Regions from separate parts of the Homo sapiens genome. Here region 1 is linked to region 2. The links come from fine-mapping of genetic effects on gene expression. A gene starts in region 2. The other region holds a variant in brackets. All regions are shown on one strand. Distances are between the middles of the regions. Region 1 overlaps C10orf95-AS1 (C10orf95 antisense RNA 1). Region 2 holds the start of C10orf95-AS1 (C10orf95 antisense RNA 1).

Region 1 (4,383 bases), 6.8 kb after region 2:
CAGACCTCGGGTGATTCACCCACCTCGGCCTCCCAAAGTGCTGGGATTACAGGCATGAGCCACTGTGCCTGGCCTGCAATTTTTTTTCATGACCACAAAGTTACCTCTTCCTGCTTGACCAAGAAACAGCACATCAGCAGTTTATATTGTGGGAACAAGGAATATTGGGCAAAAAGTGAGTGGTTAGCACGTGCAAGCAAGCATCGGCCTGATCAGAATTTTTTTTCTTTTTTTTTTTCTTTTTGACAAGGTCTCATTCTGTCACCCAGGCTGGAGTGTGAAGGGGTGGGTTGCCCCTCCACACCTGTGGGTTTTTCTCGTTAGGTGGAACGAGAGACTTGGAAAAGAAAGAGACACAGAGACAAAGTATAGAGAAAGAAAAAAGGGGGCCCATGGGACCGGCGTTCAGCACACGGAGGATCCCCCCAGCCTCTGAGTTCCCTTAGTATTTATTGATCATTATTGGGTGTTTCTCGGAGAGGGGGATGTGGCAGGGTCATAGGATAATAGTGGAGAGAAGGTCAGCAGGTAAACAGTGAACAAAGGTCTCTGCATCATAAGGTAAAGAATTAAGTGCTGTGCTTTAGATATGTATACACATAAACATCCCAATGCCTTGAAGAGCAGTATTGCTGCCCGCATGTCCCACCTCCAGCCCTAAGGCGGTTTTCCCCTATCTCAGCAGATGGAATATACAATCGGGTTTTACACCGAGACGTTCCATTGCCCAGGGATGAGCAGGAGACAGATGCCTTCCTCTTGTCTGAACTGCAACGAGGCATTCCTTCCTCTTTTACTAATCCTCCTCAGCACAGACCCTTTACGGGTGTCGGGCTGGGGGACGGTCAGGTCTTTCCCTTCCCACGAGGCCAAATCTCAGGCTATCACATAGGGAGAAACCTTGGACAATACCTGGCTTTCCTAGGCAGAGGTCCCTGCGGCCTTCCGCAGTGTTTTTTGTCCCTGGGTACTTGAGATTAGGGAGTGGTGATGACTCTTAACAAGCATGCTGCCTTCAAGCATTTGTTTAACAAAGCACACCTTGCACAGCCCTTAAGCCATTTAACCCTGAGTTGACACAGCACATGTCTCAGGGAGCACAGGGTTGGGGGTAGGGTTACAGATTAACAGCATCTTAAGGCAGAAGAATTTTTCTTACAGAACAAAATGGAGTCTCCTATGTCTACTTTTTTCTACACAGACACAGTAACAATCTGATCTCTCTTTCTTTTCCCCACAGGAGTTCAGTGGCATGACCAGGGCTCACTGCAACCTTGATCTGGGCTCAAGTGATCCTCCTACCTCAGCTTCCTGAGTAGCTAGGACCACAGGTGTGCACCAACCACACCCGACTAATTTTTGTAGAGATGAGATCCCACTATGTTACCCAGGCTGGTCTTGAACTCCTGGGCTCAGGTGATCATCCTGCCTTGGCTTCCCAAAGTACTGGGATTATAGGCTTGAGCCACCGTGCCTGGCCTGTGATCAGAATTCTCATTTTTTTAGTCACTAAAAATGCTGGGGGGCACTCCATTCTCCATTATGTGATTAGTTCACATTGCATGCTTGTATCAAAACATCATATATACCCCACAAATATATACAAAAAACTTTAAAATTTTAAGTATTAATTGCTCAGGAAAAAATTAAAATGCTGGGGTGCTGAAATCTCAAGGGCCCCATTACAAAACTCCTTAGGAACCTCGCCCTCTCTCTGCTGTAAGGACTGGTTCCAGAATGAGAGAATTTAAAAGACATTCCCC[C/G]CCCAAAATGTTCATAATGTCACCCCGGAAACCTGCGAATATGTTATATTACATGACCAGGGAGAAGTAAGGTTGCAGATGGCAGTAAGGTTGCTAATGGGCTGACCTTAAGATAAGGAGATGATCCTGGATTATCTGGGTGGACCCAATGTAATCACAAGGGTCCTTAACTGTGGAATAGTGAGGTGGCTGAGTCAGAGGCAGAGTGATGCAATGACTGAAAGACTTAACCAGCCATCACCGGCTTTGAATACGGAAGACGGTCATGAGCCAGGGAATGCAGGCAGGCTCTGGGAGCTGAAAAAAGCAAGAAAATGGATTCTCCCCTGGAGCCTCCAGAAGGGATGCGGTCCTGCCAACCCCTTGTCAGTGAGCCATTTCAGATTTCTGACTTCCAGGACTGTAAGAAAATAAACTTGTCTTGTTTTCAGCCACCAAGTTTGTGGTGATTTGTTACAACATCAGTAGGAAACTAATACACCTCCCTGCTCCTGTTTATAACTTCGTCCCTGTCCTAAAATCCCAGCACCTGGGAGTATTCACGGCTATCCATGGACTGACCACACCCCAGCCTGGAGTTCAGTAGTGGACCCATGGCACTGGCCAGGTTTTCCATCTCTTCTGGGTGGAGAGTGGGGAGCAAGCAAGACGAAGCTCAAGTGGAGCCTGGGAAGGAAATTTTCAGGCAAAATGAGAAAAATAATGGCCAAGCTGTGAGTTTCTCAGTATTTGTTCACCCTGATTCCAGTGCCAGTCCCCAGTATTTTGAAGTCCCACACCTTATCTATTCTCAGGAAAGTAGTTCTGGTGGAGTTGAATCTACTGTATCCTTAGGTTTGGGTGATTTAGGGCTAAGCCTTTCAGCACAGCCATCCCTCTGGCCATAGTGATTGACTTGGGCTAGCCCTTGACATGATATGGGCCAATGCAAGTCAAGCCTAGGACTTTATTTTCTTGTTGGGTGGAGGGGATTTTCTGCTTTTCCCAGGACAGAAATCAGAAAGGGTCCTGGACTTAACTTACACAGGCCAGTAAATTCCTTCTTTATTTAAGCTAGTTTAAATGGTCTATTGCTTCCACCAATGATACACCCCAGGATATTTCCTAACCGTCCCCCCCCCCGCCAGCACTTTGTTATGAATTATGAAAAAAAATTTTTTTTTAGACGAGTCTCTTTCACCCAGGCTGGAGAGCAGTGGTGTGGTCATAGCTGGGCTCAAGCAATCCTCCCACCTTAGCCTCCTGAGTAGTTGGAACTACAGGTGTGCCTCACCACATTCCACATAATTTTTAAAAATTTTTTATTTTATTACTACTTTTTGAGACAGAGTCTCACTCTGTTGCCCAGGCTGGAGTGCAGTGGCGCGATCTCGGCTCACTGCAACCCCCCGGGTTCAAGCGATTCCCCTGCCTCAGCCTCCCGAGTTGCTGGGACTATAGGCGTGTGCCACCGTGCTCGGCTAATTTTTTGTATTTTAGTAGAGACGGGATTTCACCATGTTGGCCAGGATGGTCTCGATATCCTGACCTTGTGATCCGTCCACCTTGGCCTCCTAAAGTGCTGGGATTACAGTTGTGAGCCACTGCACCCGGCCTGATTTTTTTATTTTTTGAAATTTTTTATAGAGATGGAGTCTCACTATGTTGCCCAGGCTGGTCTCCACCTCCTGGGCTCAAGCGATCCTCATGCCTCAGACTCCCAAGGTGCTAGGATTACAGATGTGAGCCACTGCATCTGGCCATGAAAATTTTCAGTATATAGCAACCTGAGAAGCTTTTGCTCAGGGAAGCTTGCGATCGGAAACTCACTTGAGGGCAAAATGGAGGACAGATTAGAGAGCGTGGGGGTGGAAGCTAGTCATGGAGGAGGTTCTCGTGTTAGCTTATGAAAGCTGAGAACCAAACAGGAGCAAGGGATGGAAAAGACAGATGGGAGTAGGATTCACCTGGACTTGATCCAAGATGGTGGTTTTGATGAAGTGCGTAGGATGGAGGGTGGATGCACATGTTTCCGCCTTGGCCACCTCAATGGACAGTTAAGGCAGTCCTGGAGGTAGAAAATGCTGGAGGGAGATTGGAAGTTTAAGGAATGGTGAATTCGGATGGGCCATTCTGGATATTCTCTTCAGGTTGGACATGGGAGGTGTGGAAGTAGTCATGAAGGAAAAGGTACTAGGTGAAATTACCGTAACAGCTGCCACCCTGGGCTTGTCTCCATCTGGTCCCTATCACACTATTGACATCTTGGCTGCCAGCTTGTTTGGACCCCACTCAACGCCTCTTGCAGGTAGCTATCTTGTTTTTTTTATTTTTTGAGACAGAGTCTTGCTCTGTCAACAGGCTGGAGTGCAGTGGCGCGATCTTGGCTCACTGCAACCTCCGCCTCCCGGGTTCAAGCGATTCTCCTGCCTCAGCCTCCTAAGTAGCTGGGATTACAGGCATCCATCACCGGGCCTGGCTAATTTTTTGTGTGTTTTTTAGTAGAGATGGGGTTTCACCATATTGGCCAGACTGGTTTCAAACTCCTTACCTCAGGTGATCCGCCCACCTCGGCCTCCCAAAGTTCTGGGATTACAGGCGTGAGCCACCGCACCTGGCCAGCAATCTTGTTTTTGAAGTC
Region 2 (4,383 bases):
TACTAAAAAAAAAAAAAATACAGGCTGGGCGTGGTGGCTCATGCCTGTAATCCCAGCACTTTGGGAGGCTGAGGTGGGTGGATCACGGGGTCAGGAGTTCAAGACCAGCCTGGCCAAGATGGTGAAACCCTGTCCATACTAAAAATACAAAAAAATTTGCCAGGCATGGTGGCGTGCTCCTGTAATCCCAGCTACTTGGGAGGCTGAGGCAGAGAATCCCAGGAGGCAGAGGTTGCAGTGAGTCAAGATCATGCCACTGCACTCCAGCCTGGGAGACAGAGCCAGACTCCACCTCAAAAAAAGAAAAAAAAAATTAGCCGGGTGTGGTGGCGCATGCCTATAGTCCCACCTGCTTGGGAGGCTGAGGCAGGAGAATCGCTGGAACCCAGGAGGCAGAGGTTGCAGTGAGCCAAGATTGTGCCACTGCACTCCAGCCTGGGTGACAGACTGAGACTCCATCTCAAAACGAACAAACAAACAAACAAACACTAACATTTTAGCACTTAACACATGCCAGGCACCGTGGTAAATGCTTTCTGTGCACTGTAGAAACACAGATGTCATGGCATCTTCTCAATAACCTCATGAGATAGGTTTTTGTATCATCATCCCCATTTGGGATGGGGAAACTGTTTCATGGACATTAATTTGCCCAAGGTCACACAGCAGACCCATCACACTATGCCACCTCACCTTCTTGTGTTTTATAATTTTTTACAAAGGAAAAATAAGGTGAAACTAGGGATAACAGAGTTCAGGATGCAGGTTTTATATAAAAGACACTAAGCAGGCCGGGCACGGTGGCCATGCCTGTGATCCCAGCACTTAATGAGGCCAAGGCGGGCAGATCACTTGAGGCCAGGAGTTTGACACCAGCCTGGCCATCATGGGAAAACCCCATCTCTACTAAAAATACAAAAATTAGCTGGGCGTAGTGGCACACACCTATAATCCCAGCTACTTGGAAGGCTGAGGCAGGAGAAGCGCTTGAACCAGGAGGTGGAGGTTGCAGCTGCAGTGAGCTGAGATCATGCCACTACACTGCAGCCTGGACAACAGAGTGAGACTCTGTTTCAAAAAAAAAAAAAAAAAAAGACACAAAGCAAATTTGGCTCTGAGCTCCTTGGAAACCAGGACCAAAAGAAAAATATGATCAGTAATGAGATTCGTAGCGCTTAAAAGACAAAAGCAAACCACTGATCAGGAGAAACACCTTTTCCAAGGGCTGAGGTTTGAGACAACTTCTCCAAGAAGCTCACAAATACAGCAGTGCCCAATCAGCTGGCCTACAGCTTCAATAACTCACCTGTGTATACCCAGGTAACTATTGGTCAGTTACAAATGGAAGTTCAGTAAAAGAAATTTCTACAGCTGGGCCTCAAATCTGGCTAGATCCTAGTTAAAATTGGCTATGTGGCCTAACATTCCAGAAAACTCCTAGAATATTGCAAACCTCAGCCTATTAAGAATTAACGATTATTAGCAAGAATTGGGAGACAAGAAGATACATTCATCTTTTTTTTTTTTTTTTTTTTTTGAGACGGAGTCTCGCTCTGTCGCCCAGGCTGGAGTGCAGTGGGGCCATCTCGGCTCACTGCAAACTCCGCCTCCCGGGTTCACGCCATTCTCCTGCCTCAGCCTCCCGAGTAGCTGGGACTACAGGCGCCCACCACCTCGCCCGGCTAATTCTTTGTATTTTTAGTAGAGACGGGGTTTCACCGTGTTATCCAGGATGGTCTGGATCTCCTGACCTCGTGATCCGCCCACCTTGGCCTCCCAAAGTGCTGGGATTACAGGCATGAGCCACCGCGCCGGGCGGAGACATTCATCTTAACTTCCAATTAGGCCGGGCCGAGACATTCATCTTAACTTCCAATTAGGCTGGGTTACTTTTACGCCTCTTTTACTGATGAAGAAACTGAGAGTCAGAAAGCCTTAAGTTACACAGGTAGAAAATGTCAGAGCCAGCCCTAAACTCAGGTCTCAGACATCCCTCTCCTAGTGAAGCCTTCCACACTTCAAAAATAGAGCTTATGCCCTCAGCATCTCGGAGGGTGGTGGGCCAAAGGACCAAGGAGAGTTAGAAGGTGCTGGCCTGCACACTTGGAGGGAGATGGTGAAGAGGGCAGCTGGGCCCAGCGATCAGACACATGCTTTCTCCAGAGGGCCAGTTCAACTTCACGCCCCTCCACCCTACCTTCCTGTACCCCAGGGTGGGCGGTAAGACTCCCATTAAACAGATAAACAGATGGAGAAACACCACCCCAAAACATAACAATGATCTCGCAGTGTATACTTGACTTCGCTCATTTATTTATTGTTTTTTTTTTTGTTTGTTTTTGTTTTTGAGACAGGGTTTCAGTCACCCAGGCTGGAGTGCAGTGGTGCGTTCGCGGCTCCTTGCAGCCCCGCCCTCTCGGGCTCAGGTGATCCTCCCATCTCCGCCTCCCGAGTAGGTGGGACTACAGTAGTGTATCAGCACACCCGGCTATTTTTTTTTTTTTTTTTTTTTGTAGAGACAGGGTTTCGCCATGTTGCCTAGGCTGGTCTCCAACCTGGTCTCCTGGGCTCAAGCGATCCGCCCGCCTCGGCCTCCCACAGTGCTGGGATTCCAGGCGTGAGCTACCGCGCCCGGCCTATTTACTTTTCTTACTAAGCTGGGGATCACCGTCGCCCTCGGCTTGGCAGGAAGGCGGGGGTAGGGGAGCGGTGGGAAAGGGGGGTGGGCGACGACTCTGATAGAGGGAAAAGAGGAAGGGAAAGTTGGGGCTTACTGCAGGGCAAGCTCCTTAGGAGAAGGTGGGGAGGAGGAAGGAGGGAGGTCCAGGCCCTTCTTCCATCCCACGTCCTCCACTTCCCAAGGTGCAAGAAGAAAAGAGGTACAGAACACCCAGAGGTGCCCTCGATTCCGTCTTGCACTTGCCCTTCTCCCACCGTCCAGCAATAAAGCGAGAGAAACAAGTGCAGGAAACTGGCCGGCAGTCATGGGAGAAGCCAAAAAGACAGGTGAGCAGCGCGTCCGCCTCCCGCGCACAGGTGAGGGCTCACTTCTGCCTGTCGGCGGCGGCACACACAGGAAAGAGCCAAGCGCGTGCACGCGGGCCCGCCCCTAGGCCTTGCGGCGGCTTCAGCTCAGGCCCTTGCTCTTCCTGGGGCGGCCGCGCTCCGCGGCTTCCCGGGCTGGGCTGCTGTCGCCGCTGTCGGGCCGGCGCCGCACGCGCCACTCCACGCGGTGGTCGGGCTCGAGCACGCGCGGCGTCGCCTGCAGCAGGAACTGGCCGCGGCGCTGGGTGACGCGCACGTCGGCGCGGGGGTAGGTGCCGTACGCGCGCCGCAGCTCCCGGCGCACGAAGTCCGGTAGCTGCAGAGGGGGGCCCCGCGCGCGCTCCACGCGGCCCCAGCGCAGCTCGGTTTGCAGGCTCCCGCCCTCCGGCCACGGCGCCCAGCTCTCGGCCACCGCCGCGGGCGCCTGCAGCGACAGTCCCGAGATGCCGGCGGCGGCGCAGGGCCGGCGCAGGGTCGTGGCGTAGGCCGGAGGGCAGGCCCACCAGGGCGGCGCGGCCTCGGGTGGCGCGGCGGGGCCGTAGAAGCGGTGGTATTCCCGTGGGGCCGCCCACTCGCCCGCATGCAGGCTCCCGGGCCGGCTGCGGAAGCTGTGGGCCTGGACTGGGGGTAGCAGCAGAGGGGCGGCCAGGTAGGTGCAGGTGAGCAGCTGCGGCGGCGGCGGCCAGACGCCCTGTTTGGGCGGCGGCCAGCTGTACACATACATGGTCGGCCCCCCAGGCGGCTGCTGTTCTTACTGGGGGCTCCTGCGGATCCAGACCTGCGGCGGAGGAAGGGATATGTAGACAGACTTTCTACTTAACCGCCTCCTGTCCCTGTGGGCCGGTTCCCCGGGACGCCGGTTCATGGCTTTGGGGGAATTCATCCCAAATCGAACATTCAGCTCCCCGCCTAGCCTCTTGTCCCAAGGTCGGGCAGAGCCTCAGGCTCCCAGCAGACAATAAGGAGCCTTTTCAAGCCCTCCGCCGGGATGCTCTTCCCAGTGACTCCCCACTCACTTGTCTCCTTCAGCCTTGGGGAGCCGGCGGGATCCAGAGCGGGGCTCCTCTCCGCACTTTGTAGCTGCGTTGCTCCGCTCCATGCCCTGCCTCAGCCACTCCTCCTGGTTACCAGGCAAAAGGAAACACCTTGAGCTGGCCAGGAGCTACCAGCGTCTGTCTACACCTGGGTGAGCCGTACTGGTCGTAGTGGCCCCACCCTACAAGGATGCCCTTCCTACAGTATTACTGATGGCTGTCTAATCCGGTTAGCTCCCAGTCACTACACCCCAGCCTCCCAGCGCCTGCAGGTGGATTGGGTTATCCTCACATTTGAGTGAAA

The links.
Region 1: its variant is fine-mapped to the expression of C10orf95-AS1 in whole blood (TOPMed, PIP 0.98).

What each region holds. Positions count from the first base shown.
Region 1 is chr10:102,454,097-102,458,479 of GRCh38, forward strand. C10orf95-AS1 (C10orf95 antisense RNA 1) reads left to right here. Exons shown (of 3, transcript NR_038938.1): 3 at 1,241-2,197. Among named protein-coding and RNA genes, the nearest start is that of C10orf95, 4.7 kb to the left of the region's middle. RefSeq lists enhancers at 285-873, 874-1,461, 1,462-2,051, 2,052-2,639, 2,640-3,228. The variant C/G (reference allele first, on the strand shown) is at 1,764.
Region 2 is chr10:102,447,325-102,451,707 of GRCh38, forward strand. It overlaps C10orf95-AS1 (C10orf95 antisense RNA 1), which reads left to right and starts at 2,493. Exons shown (of 3, transcript NR_038938.1): 1 at 2,493-2,698; 2 at 2,863-3,006. It overlaps C10orf95 (chromosome 10 open reading frame 95), which reads right to left and starts at 4,219. Exons shown (of 2, transcript NM_001363580.1): 1 at 4,062-4,219; 2 at 2,513-3,823. The coding sequence starts at 3,769. The coding sequence ends at 3,128. RefSeq lists silencers at 3,054-3,133, 3,174-3,663 and an enhancer at 4,186-4,383.